Regions from separate parts of the Homo sapiens genome. Here region 1 is linked to region 2. Evidence: fine-mapped expression QTL. A gene starts in region 2. The other region holds a variant in brackets. All regions are shown on one strand. Distances are between the middles of the regions. Region 1 overlaps LIMD1 (LIM domain containing 1). Region 2 holds the start of LIMD1 (LIM domain containing 1).

Region 1 (8,272 bases), 79 kb before region 2:
CTCTGAAGCATGAAATGTTCCCAGAGGGGACAGGAGGATTCCTTTGGTGCTATGATGCAACCTCAGGTCATGTGCTCGCACATGCTGGAGCATTTTCCTGAGTAACCTGAGGAAAATGTGGCAACAGAGAAAAGCACTTGGAAAATACACGCAGGAGGCAGGTAGTGTTCACCTCCCTGGTTAAAGGAAAGGCACCCCCCACATGCTCACAGGAACTCTCCCTCCTGCCCCTCCTCTTCCCCTACCCCACTTCCACCCCAGGGGCCACCGGAAGCAGCAGCAGCAACCCCGGCTCCTCATCCCCTGCCGTGATGTCTGCAAGTGGCTCTGGCTAGAAGTGGTGCTGGTGAAGGGCTGTAGATGAGGGTCTCTTCTCCAGCCTCTTCACGTGGCAGGAGTGACAGAACAGGTGGTCCTCCAGCGGATAACAGCGGTGGCCATCTTCATCATTGAGCTCCAGACCACAGTCCTGTGGGGAGGCAGACATGTCCAGGGGAAGCAAAACAAAACAGACTGCAAGACTGACCTGAAGGCCACAGTCCCCAAAATCAGCAGAGGGTGCTGTGTGTTTCTGTATAGGCAGGAAATGCCAGTGCAGAAACACAGCTCCTGCCCCGTGGAGGCCTGTCCAACACAGGAGACACTGCCACAAGGCACTTGCTGTGAACCACTTAAAATGTGCTGTCAGTGTAAATGCAGATTCCGAAGACTTAGGACAAAAAGAGGATGTAAAAATATCTCATGGGAAAAAGGAATGAGATCATGTCCTTTGCAGGGACATGGATGAAGCTGGAAGCCATCATTCTCAGCAAACTAACAAAGGAACAGAAAACTAAACACCACATGTTCTCACTCATAAGTGGGAGTTGAACAATGAGAACACATGGACACAGGGAGGGGAACAACACACACCAGGGCCTGTTGGGAGGTGGGGGTGAGGGGAGGGAACTTAGAGGATGGGACAATAGGTGCAGCAAACCACCCTGGCACACGTACAACATATATCTATGTAATAAATCTTCACACGTATCCCTTTTTTTTTTTTAGAAGAAATAAAATAAATTGTGGAGTTACAAAAAAAATCTCATGGGTAACTTTTTTATATTGATTACATGTTCAAAAGATAACATTTGGATTTTTTTTTCTTTTTTGAGACAGTCTCCCTCTGTTTTCTAGGCTGGAGTGCAGTGGTGCGATCTCAGCTCACTGCAACATCCACCTCCCCCGTTCAAGGAATTCTCCTGTCTCAGCCTCCCAAGTAGCTGGGATTATGCACGCGCCAACACATCTGGCTAATTTTTGTATTTTTAGTAGAGACAGGGTTTCACCATGTTGGCCAGGCTGGTCTTGAACTCCTGACCTCAAGTGATCTGCCCTCCCAAAGTGCTGGGATTACAGGCATGAGCCACCACGCCCAGCAGGATTTTTTACTTTTTTAAGACAGGGTCTTGCTGTGTCACCCAGAGTAGAGTGCAGTGACACGATCCTAGCTTCCTAAGTAGCTGAGACTATAGGCACAGCATGCCTGGCTAATTTTTGTATTTTTAGTAGAGACAGGGTCTCACTGTGTTGTCCATGCTGTTCTCAAACTCCTGGGCTCATGTGATCCCCCTGCCTCGGCCTTCCAAAGTGCTAAGATTACAGGCATGGGCCCATGCCTGGCTGGATATTTTGAACCGAATAAAATAATTAATCTCACCGGTTTCTTTTAACGTTTTAATTGTGACTACCAGAAAACTTAAAATGATACATGACTTTAATTTGTGGCTCTCATAATTCTTTAACGTTTTAATTGTGACTACCAGAAAACTTAAAATGATACATGACTTTAATTTGTGGCTCTCATAGTTCTTTCTTTTTTTGAGACGGAGTCTTGCTCTGTTGCCCAGGCTGGAGTGCAGTAGCATGATCTCAGGTCACTGCAACCTCCACTTCCCAGGTTCAAGCAATTCTCCTGTCTCAGCTTCCCGAGTAGCTGGGACTACAGGCGTGTGCCACCACGCCCACTAATCTTTGTATTTTTAGTAGAGATGGGTTTTTGCCATGTTGGCCAGGCTGGTCTCGAACTCCTGACCTCAAGTAATCTGCCGGCCTTGGCCTCCCAAAGTGCTGAGATTACAGGCGTGAGCTATCGCGCCCGGCCCCTTATATTTCTTTTGGATAGCACTGGTCTAGAAAATGTGGAGAGGCCTGTTGAGCAAATGTCCTCACCTTTTTCTCCTGCAGTGACCTGGGGCACCTGGGGTCCCAGCAGCAATGATTCCCACCCATTTCTTCAGTGTTGGCAGTGGGACAAGTCTATATGAGGGACACCCCCATTCTCTACCCACAGGGTCACCAAATGAATCTAATCTCCTTCCATGGGTGAATTCACTTAATTGTGGCTGAAATTCCATGGTCACCCTTCACAAGGGTTGGTGAGGGGCAACCTCTAGCTTTCCTGACAGTCATCAGGTACTAGTGCTCCTTCATCTTGGGTTGGGACAAAGGGCAGGAAGGGGCAGGCGGACCCCACCCGCCTTCACACCACCAGCTGACATGCCTGTTTCCAAGAGGGGCTTCATGATTTCCAGGGCTCAGCTGAGAAAGGAGCTTCAGGCAGATAGAACAGCCTGCAAGCTGGAGGGGAGGGAGTCCCTTCCCCAAATCGCACACCTGCCTGACAATGTGGCCCGCAGATAGGACCTGAAACCCATGCTCTCCACGACCCTCCTAGCTCTGCAGCTTCAGGGAGAGCAGCTCCAACAGTTGCAGGACTTGATAGTTCTGAATATGCAGAAGAAAGACCTTTATACCTTGAGCATTTCCATCTTCTCCTACCTCCCCCAAGAACCAGCCTTCATTCCATTTCCTACAGAAGCTCTAGAGGGCTGACCCTTGCCAGAATCTTGTTGACTGCCTCTTGCCCCAGTCAACGCAGGATGCTTTTCTCTTGGATGTCTACAATGGGCTTTGGGGGCTGGGTGGGGAGGGGTCTACCTCGCAGTGGTAACACTCCACGTGGTAGTCTCTGTCCATGGACACGACACGGATGGTCTCATCTGAGCCCTGGGACCAGAGAAAAGCAAGAACACATAGGAGAGGCCTGTTAGGGGGGCTGTCGGGCTTGATGTACCGTGGGGTGGGGAGGGAAGAGGGTTTTGGGGGTAACAAGTAGGTGGCCTTGGGAGGAGAAGGTAAATCAGGAGTACTTA[C/T]TGGAAGAAGAATACATTTAAGCTGATGAGAGGGGAAGTAGGAGGGATAGGAGTCCTTCCTTCTAGAATGTCAGAGTTAACACTGAAAGAAAGACCTACATGGACACTTATTTTAAAAAATGAAGAAAAGACAAGCCTTTCTCCTCATCTGCTAATCTAAGAATTAGTATCAAGTAAGGGAGTTTGACCTGGTTATGGGGACAAATCAGCACAAGAAGGGTACTGGGTTGGGGAAGCCAGTCAACAAGGAAGGGTGAAGACACGACTTATCTCAAAGGTGAAGTGGGGTTTTTTTTGGTTTTTTTTTTTTGGAGACAAGGTCTTGCTGTCACCTGCTGGAATGCAGTAGCACCATCATAGCTCGCTGCAGCCTCAAACTCTTGGGCTCAAGCAGCTAGGACTACAGGCACATGCCACCACACTTGGCCAATTTTTAACAATTTTTTGTAGAGATGAGGTCTTGCTATGTTGCCCAGGCTGTTCTTAAACTCCAGGCCTCAAGCAATTTTCCTGCCTGGGCCTCCTAAAAGGGGTGGGATTACAGGCGTGAGCCACTGCACCAGGCCAGAGTTGAGATTTTTAAAAGGATACCTTAAAAGCTGTAAGGACAGGACATGGATCTTGTAAATGAGCCCAGGGAGATATTCATGTCTTAGAAGCCCCTGGGAGCATGTCTGGAAGGGCATCTTACCTCAGGTGGAAGGATGGGAAGCCCACAGGCTGCACACTTGGGGGCCAGCACCCTGTGGGGAGAAACAAAGCAGCAATAAATGTTGCTTCTGGGAGCAAATTCCAGAGTCAGACTTGCACTTGGAATCCACATGGAGCCTTCCTCCATGCCGCCTCCTGCCCCTTGCTCTCCTCCCTCATAGAATGACTGGTACCTGGCTCACTTTGTGGAATATGCCTTAGTATTTGCTCCCCAGCTGCAATGAGGACACTGGCTGCCTCTCACTCTTCTGGGGACAGCACTAACTGATTTGTTTACACCTCTCATGGTGCCTAGCACAGGCCCAGGCAAACCAAGAGTGGTAGGAACCAGCACTGCATAGGGGCCTTGTGAAGTTAGGTAACGCTGAAGCCACAGGGCTTGGTGGATTCCTCCCGAGGCCTAGCTACAAATATGATTATTAGTTTTTCTGTGCTCTGTTGTTTTTTTTTTTTCACTAAACATGATTCTTTAACCCATTCCTGTCAACACTGGCATCGACCAACCTCCCAAGGTCCCTGCTGTACCCCTCAAAACCATTAAGCCTTTGCTGGACTGTGATCTAAGGGCGGCTGGCAAACACAGTTTTGTCGGTTTCCACCACTCACTCTGCTGAGATCAGCTTGGCCTACACGAATGGGTCCTGTCTGCTCCCATCCCTTCTTACTTGTGGTAATCTCGGACACAGTAGATCTTGTTCTCTGAGTCCACGGTGAAGGGCACCCCATCCAAACACTCATTACAGATGACACAGCGGAAACAGCCGGGGTGGTAGGACTTCCCCAGGGCTTGCAGGATCTGGAGCAGAGACCAAGACTCAGTGGGGATTATAGGGAAGGATGAGATGGTGGAAGGGGAGAGGAACACATCAGGCCTAAGGATTACATGAGCAGTCACACACAGAGTACACTTACCCCCGAGTTTCACCTAGGAGAAGAGCAAGAGGTGATGGGGTGGGAAAGGCAAATCTGTTTAGATGAATACACAGAAGAGACCACACAGGAATCCTTCTCCTGCAGCCTCTCACAGGGTCTCTGAGCTGGCAGGGAAAGAGGGCTCCTTTCCAACCCTCACCCAGAACAGGAAACTCTTGCATAGTTCTTTAAGAGAAAGAGATGGTAAGGAAGGGATGGGCCAATCCCAGGGCCAAAATCCACCACGAAGAAGTGGGAAACGATGCAAAGCAGGGCCACAGAAGGATACATCCTTCCCAGATTTGGGAAGCAGCAAGTACTCGGAAAAATGAAAAGAAATTCCATGTGGAAATGGCAGAGCTCAAAAGGAACCCCTTCACTTCTGCCTCTTGGATGCCCCTTCTATGCAGCTTTGACTCTGGAGCATGATAATCTAGAAGTTCTGACTCAACCCAATGACCTCAAATCCAAGTGTAATAAGTAAAGTTTCTCTGTTGTTGTTTTTAAACGCAATAGAGGGAAAGCCCCACAAACTTCTTCCTCTCAGTGTCATTTAATCTGGATCTGGATGGGATACCTGGAACTGCCAGAGCCAACCTGAAACCAGGACAGACCCAAGACATGGACAGCAGGAAAGAGAAGAGATGGAAAGAACATCCTTGGTGAGGTCCGTAAGTAACTGAATTAACTCATCATGGAACCACATACCTCCAAGCCTCTTTTTAGGTGAGATAAAATATCATTCCTATGAAGTCAGTGGTCCTCGAAATGTGTGTGGCCCCAGACCTTCAGCATTAGCATCACCTGCAAACTTGTTAATAATGCACATTCTTGGACCCCATCCCAGATTTCTTGAATCAGAAACTCTGGGGGTAAGGCCCAGCAGTTGGTATTTTAATAGGGTGATTCTGATATATATTAAAGTTGGAGGATCATTGGTTTAACTCGAACTGAGTCTGGGTTTTTTCTATAATTTGCAGTTGAAAGCATCTTCACTGACTTAATAGGAGATTCATTTCTGCAATTACCTGCATCATGAAACTTAGCAAAAACAACTGAACTACAGAATCAACATGAGCAAGGTCACACCAAAACATGCATCTGCAAAGAATGTACAGAACGGTCATCAGCATCCAGCAGTGGGAGCCCACACAGAAAGCCTTCAAACAGGCTGAAGAAAGGGGATTTTGGATTTGGGGAAGCCTTGTCAGTACACTGTGAGACCCAGGGGTAAAGATATGCTGTGTTACAGCTCCTTCCCCTGGAAGCCTCAGGCGGATAACTCCACACTGCACAAGCTCCAGCCAAGAAGGCAAGAGGAGGGCGTTGTGCTATTCCAGCTTTCCTCTGAATGCTCAGCTTTCAAGCTTCCTCATTCCCTCTTGGGTTTCCCTAACCTTTGAGGGCCCTCTCAATCTGCAGTAAGGCAAAACAGGAAGAACAACTGGCTGGGCTTCCAAAACCCATTTGGCAATTTGGACCTTGGAATGCATTTTCCCCAAGATGAATGCTGTCTTGGCAGAAAGAGATCCTTAAATTAATTTAATCCACATTGTGCCTAAAGTAAGATTAGAAAAAGATGCCATTTTGCTGCATTGTGACTAGCTGTAATACTTTTTTTATGTGAGACTATGCCTGGTTCTAACCTGCAAGCCCAGAATGTACCCCTCTATTAACAAAAGGGTATATAGAGAGACAATTTACACAAAGAGTTAGACAGCTGGGGTTCTGTCTAGACATTCACTAAAAGTTTTCAAGTCCTAGGGAAGACCTGAAAGACTGAAGCTTCAACTTCATACTATCCCATATGGTAGAGATCTCACATCAAGAGATGGGGACTATTTCCCCCTCCCCTTGAATCAGAACTGGCTTTGTGACTTTCTTTAATTAACAGAAAGCAGAAGAAACAATGTTCTGAGATTTCTGAGTCAAAGGCTTAAGAAGACTGGTAGCTTCCACTTCCTATCTCTTGCTGTAAGGAAGTCTGAACTAGACTACTGAATGATTAGAGGCTACAGGGAGAGGGGCCTGGAGGGTGAGAGGTCATCTTGGATGTTCCAGTTCAACTGTGCTACCAGCTGAACAAAGTTAAGTAGGAGACCCCAGCCAATGCCACACAGAGCAGAAGAATTGGCCTGCTAAACCCTGACCTAAATCCTGACCCACAGCATGAAGCATGATGATAAATAAGAAATCACTATTGTTTTAAACTACAAAGTTTTAGGGTGGTTTGTCATGCAGCAATAGATAAATGACATACCCTGAGGTTATCCAAAGAAGTCTTAGGATTACTAGAACTAAGAATAGGGTATAATCATACTCATAAATTCAGAGCATGTTGACTTCATATGAAGTAGGTTTGTCAGAAGGACACTAAAAACAAAGGCAAATTCTGCTAAAGAAATAGAGCCCTACAGAGTCTAGAAGATACCTGGGAAGGAGAGGTAAGCATATGTAGCTTCTGCCTACCTCCCACTGCGAGCATGGGGGAAGGGCCACGTTTCCCAGGGAGGTCTTGGCTACTAATGAGGACATGGCTCTAATAGGGCTAAGACCTCTGCTGAGGTCTGTCAAAGCCTGGGAGATAGCAGATATTCATCACGAATGGGGAGGGCTGTGGGTCACTGATGTTTTATAAATATTAGCATATAACCAGCAGAAATGAGTGTTTATGTCCATCAAAGACATGTTCAAGAGTATTCACAGCAGCTTCATGCATAAATAGCAAAAAACTAGAAACCACCAAATCCCCATCAACATGAGATGGAGAAATAAATTGTGCTATATCCATACAATGGAATTCCACTTAGCAATACAAATCAATAAACTACCAATACAGGTAACAGCATGGATGAAGCTCAAAAACATATGTAATAAGACCTGAAAGAGTCTATACTATATGTTTCTATTTATATGAAGTTCCAAAACCAGCAAAATGAATTTCTGGCAATAGAAGTTGGAATAATGGTTGCCTTTGTGGGAGTGGGGTCTTGAGTGGGAATAGACAAGAAGGAACTTTCTGGAGTTTGGGAAGTGTTCTATATCTTGATCTGGGTGGTGGTTACAGGGGTATATGCACATGTGAAAACTCGTTCAGATGTACACTTAAGATTAGTATCTTTTACTCTATGAGTTATTTCTCAATAAAAAGGTAAAATTAAAAATACTAATAATTAGAAATTATCTTCTCTAGAATGAAATTAATGAGTCAGCTTAGAGAGGGACTTAACTGTTTCCAACTTAAAGTATGTTATATAATCATTTCCTCTGATCAGTATATTAAAGAACTTCTTAAAGGCTGGTTTCCAATGGTGAACAATTTGATGTTGTATTCATTAACCTCATAACCTAACCCTCTAGGGAAAAATTGTCCCCACTGAAGACCTGAAGCCCAAAATAACCTCAGAGAGCCAGTGACTGAGCAAAGAATGGAATGTATAAAACCTGGTCCTTGC
Region 2 (8,325 bases):
ATATGCTGAATGGATGAGTAGCGTCAGCTAATACCGTTGCTCTGATGCACAGCATAAACTTGCATCTCAAGATAAAACTGCTGTTTGTGTTGTCCAATGAGCTTGAAATTTACAACTAAACAAAAGTTTAAATTAAAAGACCCACAGTATTTCCAGCTAACTATTACTCCCAAATGTGGGAATGTGCTGAGGAGAAAAGATAGTTCACAGTAAGATGGTGCCATGTGCTTTAAAAAATAAACCAGTAGGCCGGGCACAGTGGCTCACACCTGTAATCCCAGCACTTTGGGAGGCTGAGGCAGGAAGATCACTTGAGCCCAGAAGAACAGCCTGGGCAACCTAGAGAGGACCCCCCACCTCCACGTCCCCTTCCTCCCCTGCTTCCTCTTAAGTAGTCCTAGCTACTCAGGAGGCTGAGGTAGGAAGATGCCTTGAGTCCGGGAGGTCTAGGGTGCACTGCACTCCAGCCTGGGCAACAAGGCAAGACCTTGTCTCAAAATAAATAAATAAATAAACAAATAAATAAATAAAAATAAATTTAAAAAAAGTAAGCCATAAACAGCTACCCTGACCTCAGCCTGCTGAGTATGGGGTGAGAACTGGCTCCCACAAGGTTCTCATGAGAAGCAAAACACAATGCTACCATAAGCTGCACACATCCAGCAGCCCAGTGCCTCAGACCCTGGTCCCTCAAAGGACCTTGGGACACTTGCTCGTTCACGGAGAATAAGCGTAGACTGACAGCAGTAAGCCAGCTGTCTTCCTCTCCCAGGGCCTTCCCTGTCCCTGCCCTCCACTAGGCAGAGCTGCTACCCCAGCAGGACTCAGGCTATGGGGAACACGGGGGTCAATTATCCAAAGTTAAAAACTGAAAAAGAAAAACCCCTCCGATTCTCTGCGAATAGGCTGTCTTTCTAGTTAGCTCTCTTATGAGACAACTAATCATTACTCAACAGAAAGATACAACTACCACTAAACCTCGTGCAAAGAAAAAAAGTTGAAGCTAGCAGTCTCCAAGAGTTTGTGGTTTTAAAAAAGAGAATAAAACAAAACATGCAAGTTTGAGTAAAACCAGGAAGACACATTTTCCATCATAGTTTGTGCCACGGCTGTGGTGCAACCTGGCTGTTGGCTGTTACCTGGGTGTAGGCTGGGTTAGGAGGCACATGGTGCGGCAGGGCTCAAATCTCACCACACAGCAGGATCACGGCTGGCTGGGTCCCATCCCACAGTTTCTGATTCAGTAGGTCTTGGGTGGGGCCCAAGAATTTCCATTTCTAATCAGTTTCCAGGCAAAGGGATGCTGCTGATCCAGGGACTACACTTAAGAACCACTGCTCTGGCCAGGCGCGGTGGCTCACGCCTGTAATCCCAGCACTTTGGGAGGCCAAGGCGGGCGGATCACGAGGTCAGGAGATTGAGAACATCCTGGCTAGCGCAGTGAAACCCTGTCTCTACTTAAAAAAAAAAAATTAGCCAGGTGTGGTGGCACGTGCCTGTAGTCCCAGCTACTCAAGAGGCTGAGGCAGGAGAATTGCTTGAACCCGGGAGGCGGAGGTTGCAGTGAGCCGAGATTGTGCCACTGCACTCTAGCCTGGGCTACAGAACGAGACTCCATCTCAAAAAAAAAAAAAAAAGATCCACTGCTCTACAAGTCTTTCATGGTAGTGTTTGACCTGCCTCAACTGCACATAAGTACCCATCTACACACAGACACACACACAGACACACACACACGGCAGTCAAGAGCCCCTGCCTCAATCACTGGTCCCTCAAACAGCCAGATCAACCAGATCTGCCCAACCAACTACAGACTGAACGCTCAGGGGTAGCTGCCCCTGAGAAAGCTGGTCCCACTGAAGTCCTATATGAGCCTGTCACTGCAAGAGGCTCTAAAGTCACACCCAAAACCCTTGAAATCCAAAGTCACAGCATTTCTCTTTTCTGAGAGCAGTCATGAGCAATCCCACCCTGCTGCACCCTTCACACATGGGTAACCCCAGCTGCAAGGTCCGCTTTCTGCCCCAGGATGCTTTCAAGTTTCTGAATCAGAAAAAGCAGCTGAAAGAGGAAGCCCAAAACAAAAAAATAAAAAAACAGGCCACTCAAAGAGAGGTAACTACAGCCCACAGCATCCCTGGTAGGGGGCATGTTCCCCAATCTCAAGAACCCCATCGCCCCACCATAGGCAACTCCACCAGCCTCTCACTCACCAAAGTAATCAGCCTTCGGGTGAGCATCCATCTCTCGCTCCAGACGTTGGGTGAGGGCTTCTAATTTCAACTCAGCAGCAGAGGGTCTCAGCTCAGGACCTGGGACGAGGGGCTGGCAGGGCAGCCTTACCCTAGGGGAGCTGGGGCTGTCCAGGAGCACAGATCCCAGGCTACCATCAGAAGACCAGCCCAGGGGACCCTCTTTACAAGATAACTCAGGCAGGGTGGACATCACTGGATGGACAAGACTGGTGGGGCTGAGCTTGGGACCAGTGCCAAGGTCTGTGCAGCCAGGCTTCGGCCCCAGCCCAGGGACCGCACCCTGCTGTGAACCGTCCAGACCAGCTGGCGAGGATGACGGGGCAGAACTGGAAAGGTAAGATTTGGGCCCATCCTGGAACCAGGGTTGGGGGTCCACATTGGGTTTGGACATCACACCTGAAACCTCACCCCCCAGCCCCGAGTTTGATCTTGGAAGACCTCCTTGCCTGGGGCAGCTCAGGGCCAAGGGTGCTGACACAGAAGGGGTCCTGGGCTGAACAGGCCCCACAGCTGGTGCTCCGTTCTCCAAGTTTGGGGAAGGCAGGCCAGGGCTCACCCGCTGGGAGGAGGCAGTGGACCAAAGGCCTGTTGGCTTCTCGCTGCTGCGGCCACCAATGCCACTATTCTGACCACCGAGGCTACCCTCAGAAGACCTGCTGGAGCTCAGGGAGAGCTGTCGGTGATTTAGGGGATGGTCCCCGCAGGGTTTGGGCAGTGGTGGGTCACTCCCCGGGGAGCTAGGCCACCCACTCCCTACACTCAGGCCGATGCTGGGGGACACTCCTGGTTTGTCACCCCACTTTGGGCTTGCCAAGGAGAGGTTGTCATAATAGTCTCCATGAGTGAGGCAGGAAGGATCCTCACAGGGGCCTGGCTGGTGGAAAGCAGACATCTCAGAAGTCGCCAGGCTCTCCCTGGAACCACAGTCCTGGCTGCCATGCCTCGTGCCATGCAGGTATGGCCTGGATCTCTGCTCCTGCGGTGGGTACGGGGGCTGCCCAGCAGCGAGGGTGGTGACTGCCCCAGGTGCCCCTGTCGAGGCAGCAAGAGGAGGCTTGGCAGCACCATCCACAGTCAGCTTGCTGCCCACAACTTCCCAACGGGCCTGTGGGCCCAGGCGGCCCCCTCCATTGACAGGGCCTCTACTCCCCCTGGGCAGAGTCTCCTCCTGCAGGAGCTGCTGCTGCTGCTGCTGGAGGTGGATTTTGGCCATCTTGGTGGCGAACACCCTGCGAGTTTCCTCAAACTCGGGGTTGTTGCCTGCACCCTTGTCCACTCGGAAGAGCCCATCCTTAGAGGCCTCATACATGTTCAGGTCCTCGATGAATTTACTGGCCTCCAGGCCCAGGTCGTCATACTTATCCATGCTGCAGACAGGTGTCCGGGCCTAGCCCAGGTGCCGTGTGTGTGTGTGTGTGTGTGTGTGTGTGTGTGTGTGTGTGTGTGTGTGTGTGTGTGTGTGTGTGTTGAGGGCAGCGGGGAGATGCTGGCGAAGGGTCGGGGCTCAAGTCCGGCCCAGTACAAGTAAAGACTTCCACCTGCCTAGCGTGAAGGGCATGACCCCAGGATTTAAGAGTCCAGCCGAAGTTGAGACCTCAACGCCAGCTGGACCAAGTTTGCTTCCAACTCCCTTTCCCCTGGAGACGTCCTTGTTGGGGTAGCTGGTGGCACTTCGCCGTCCCGGGCCTGCTCAGCGGAGTTCTTTTCTCCTCTTCAAATTATAAAAGGAAAAAGAAAACAGCAAAAAAGTAAAATCACATCCTCCTTAGGCAACCAAACACGGAAACTCACAGCAAGGCAGCAGCCGACTGGGCCGGGTGAAGCTGAATCGGCCGGGAGGGCGCCGAGGCCGCGAGTCGGGCCGGAGCAAACGCGCGGCGGCTGAGGCGCAGGTACGTTCCAGGCGCTGGGTCCTCCGCTGCTTCCCCGGAGCTGCGATCCCGGCCGGCGCCTGGCAGGAACGCCGTCCGGGACGCACGGGCGGCCGAGCAGCGGCAGGAAGTTCACGGCAGCTGGGGCTGGCGGCCCATTGTCCGATGGCGGCGGCGGATCGGCGCGCGCGGGCCGGAGGGCGGCGGGACGCGGAAGTGAGTGCGCCAGGCGCAGTCCCTGCTGCTCGCTCGCCGGCTCTGCACGTCCCGAGCCCGCGCCGGGGCGGAGGGGGCGGCCGAGGGGCGGGGACGGCGCGCGGGCGGGCGCCCAGGGGCAGGCCTGCACCCGGCAGCGTGGCTGGGCCTCCTGCCCCCAGGCCTGGCTGGAGAACACCGAGGGGTGCCCCACAAGTCCGTCCCACGCTCTAGCACTGGGACTGCACGGGACTTCGCCGCCGCCACTGCCGCCCCCTGCGAGTCCTGGACCGAATTGGGTGCTCCGACCTCCCTTCCAGCCTCGGGTCCTCAGCCCGGCCCCGCCCCTGGCAGCGCTGGGCGGGGTCCTCCGCTCGGAGACGGGCGGCCTGGGTAGCCTGCATGGGCCCAACACAGGCGCTGGGAGTTTGCGAGGACTTTCGAGGACGCCGCTCCTCGCTCCACTGCCTCAGTTTCCCCGGTGGAAAGCCAGCCCTTTGTGCCTCTCGAGGCCGGCACCGTCCAGGCTGTGCCCGCCGCCCGGCTTGCCCGAGGTGCACTATTGGAGAGGCGCACGGGCGTGTCACCCATGGCTGGCCCACCGTCCTCTTTGACAGGTCGGGAGACTGAGGCAGAGAGGGGGAAATGCCCAACATGCCAACGTAACCAGCAAAGCGTAGATGGGAGCCCGGGCCCTCTGAAAGAGCGAAAAAGAAGAAAGTCTCGTTGTGCCTGCGCGCATTTCACGTCCTCAGTGCAGCAGTAAAAGCACGTGCCCTAGTAGGCTCGTTATTCGTAGAGGGACCCATCTGCAAGTGGATCCGCGCGGCTGCAGGGACACCAGGCCTGACTCCTTGGCGCCCCCGCATGGCCCGGGACTCCCTATACCAGTTCCCAGGCGATCCTGGAGAGGTTTCATTTCCCACACTACAGCCATCGTGATCCTAAGGCAAATACTAGAACAGACACTTCTCTACCTAAATCCTCAGTGCTTACCCCAGAATTAAATTGAAATCGGCCCCTTGCCGCAGCCTTCTGGGCCAGATCTAGGGATCTTCCCTCCCTCCCTGCACTCTAGCTGCAGGAGCTTCCTGGTGTCTGCCCAGAGCTTGCCCCTAAACTGAGTGGCTCATCTTTCCCATCCCTGCTGAAGTCACCTCCTCTTAGAGGCCTCCTCAGAGTGGTTCCTGTTGTTCTTTTTCAGCACCCTCTTTACTTCCTGCTCAGTTCTGATAACTATTTATAATTATTTATTTGTTGGTTAACATGCGTTTTTTTTTGTTTGGTTGGGTGGTAGGTTTCCCACTCCATTTGACCATATCTGTATGCCAAGTGCCTGGTATATATTAATAGTAGTACCTAATGGTCGAATAAGTGAATTAGTGAACCCCTATCTGCCAGAGTTGTGACAGAGAACAAATAAGATAATATATATGAATGTGCTTTATATTCTGTAAACCAGGGGTCCCCAACCCCTGGGCTACTGACCAGTACTGGTCTGTGGCCTGTTAGGAACTGAGTGGCACAGCAGGAGGTGAGAGGAGGCAAGCCAGCGAAACTTCATCTGTATTTACAGCCACTCCCCATTACTGGCATTACCGCCTGAGCTTCACATCCTGTCAGATCAGCAGTGGCATTAGATTCTCAGAGGGGTGCACAAACCTTATTATGAACTACCCTCATGAGGAATGTAGGTTGCACGCTCCTTATGAGAATCTAATGCCCGATGATCTGAGGTGGAACAGTTTCATCCCGTCTGTGAAAAAATTGGCTTCTGTGAAACTGGTGCCAAAAAGATTGAGGACCGCTGCCGTAAACCCAAAGTATGGTTAATGGACTCCATATCACCAGGGAGCTTGTTGAAAATGCAGAATCTTAGGCCCCATTGCCAACCTACTGAATCAGAATCTGCATTTTAACAAGATTTCTGGGCGGTTTATTTGCACAATAAAGTTACAGAAGCACTGCTATAAAGCACTATACTAAAATGAAGTATTTTTATTAAAAAATTTTTTTTGGTTTTTTATCTACAAGTAATACATGTTTCTATAACAACTTTGAACAATACAGACATATATAAAGTTTTAAAAGTTGCCTACCATCCCCTTTCTCAGAGGTAATCATAATTAAACACTCCTTAGGTGTTGGGTAATACTTATTAATTAAAAACTGGATTTTGGAGTGGAAGACTGGCTCACTTTGCCTGACCTCCAAATATGGCAGTTGTAGCTGACAAAGTGCTAGGAATATATGGCCATCCCTCTGCAAAGTCCAGTAAGCTCAGAGCCAGCTTCCTGGGTTTTCAGTTTGGACAGCTGGGACCCTGGTGCAGGAGCCACAGACACCAACCAGTGCTCTTACATTTGTCTTCTCTTTTCATCCTATCTTGGTGATGGCAGCAGTGGTCCATCTGGAGCAGCCACTGCCATGATGCTAGCTGCAATGGCGAGGTGAGGCCGTGACTGCATGCTCCATAGAGCTGGTAGGAGCTAGGAACAGGCAGGAGCCCCACTCCCTTCTGAGTTGGTGGGGCGGGAGCCCTGCCTTCCCAGGCACAGCTGCATCCACCCAGCTGTGGCTGCAGACCTGGGCATCCCTGTGCTCCCGGGGACCTAGAAAGCCCCCCTACTCCCACAGGCTCAGAAGTGCCTGCTCCTGTTGCCTGGCCTCTCCTGGTGCCCATTCTGATTTTGGAGCAAAGTTGAAGCTGAGCCCAGATACTGTCACGACCCAGCTGGGGGTGCACGCACTCAGGGCAGCACTGACACACCAGTCCCCTGCCGCCTCGGCCCCCTCCAGACTTTGGGTGCCGATGAGCATGGGAGGGAGGCCAGGGTGAGGCTGAGGGCAGTTCGGCATGTACCTGCAGGCACCCCTCAGCATGAACAGCCTGGGTGCCATGGGTGCCATGGCCAGCAGGTTGATGGCAGCAGGGGGCAATCAGGCTCCTGGGTGAAATGGGATGGGTCCCCAGTGAAGCCCCCTTCAAGACAGGGACAGCCTGAAACCTAGGGGCTGAGCTATCAGTCCTGCAGACTGGAGTGAGAATTTATGGTGCTTTTCCTGGGCCTGCCTATGGCTGCCGGTGGACCAATCAGCACACACTTCCTCCCTTCTGAAGTCCATAAAAAAAACCAGACTCAGCCAGACTCAGGCAGACAATGGGATGACCTGCCTGCAGATAGGAGCTACCCACTCTGGGTCTCTCTGCTGAAGGCTGCAGAGACATCGGGGCAACCTGCCTGTGGAAGGCAGCTACCCACTGTGGGTCTCTTCTCCACTGAGAGCTGGACACTCATCGGGACAACCTGCCTGAGGAAAGGAGATACCCACTGAGAACAGTTCTGCCACTCAGTGAGGCTCCTTTCTGCCTTGCTCACCCTCCAGTTGTCTGCATACTTCATTCTTTGTGGACACAGGACAAGAACTTGGGACCCACTGGGCAAATGGTGGCACTAAAAGATCTGTAACACAAACAGGACTGAAACACACCCCTTGCTTGCCACGTTGTGGGCAACGAGAAGGAGAGAAGAGAGAAGGAGAAAAGAGAGAAGGAGAGAAAAGCTGCAGCCCTTTGGGGAGCCCAGACCTAGGAGCACCCCAATCCAGGGTTATGATACCCTCTTTGGGGCTCTGCGGTTCCTGGTGTCTCCAAGCTTCCAGGTGCCACCGCATTCCCCAGTGCCAGCGGTGGAAGTTGCCTGTGGTACGCCTGGTCCAGCCACAGCTGTGCCCGTGCTGGCACCTGGAGCTGCCTGCACTGCCACAGCTGGCATGCCTGGCTGTGTGCAGTGGCCAGACCCCATGCTTGCTTGCTCACACAGCTCTCGCTGCTCCATGGCTGGCTTGCCCTTGGCAAGCATGGGATCCACACCAGTAGCACGAGCTGAGCACAGCCTGTCAGGCTAAGTGGGCGAAACAAAACCAGCAGGCCTGAGCAAAACTTGGGCAAAGGCACCACTAGCCACAGAGGTTTCTGTCTGGAAAAGCAACACCCCAAGTAT

What was found.
Region 1: its variant is fine-mapped to the expression of LIMD1 in whole blood (TOPMed, PIP above 0.99).

What each region holds. Positions count from the first base shown.
Region 1 is chr3:45,669,119-45,677,390 of GRCh38, reverse strand. It overlaps LIMD1 (LIM domain containing 1), which reads right to left. Exons shown (of 8, transcript NM_014240.3): 5 at 4,571-4,701; 6 at 3,886-3,937; 7 at 2,980-3,048; 8 at 1-469. The coding sequence ends at 332. Among named protein-coding and RNA genes, the nearest start is that of LIMD1-AS1, 16 kb to the left of the region's middle. The variant C/T (reference allele first, on the strand shown) is at 3,195.
Region 2 is chr3:45,590,176-45,598,500 of GRCh38, reverse strand. It overlaps LIMD1 (LIM domain containing 1), which reads right to left and starts at 3,750. Exons shown (of 8, transcript NM_014240.3): 1 at 2,214-3,750. The coding sequence starts at 3,621. RefSeq lists enhancers at 879-1,378, 3,874-4,043 and silencers at 4,134-4,263, 4,274-4,743.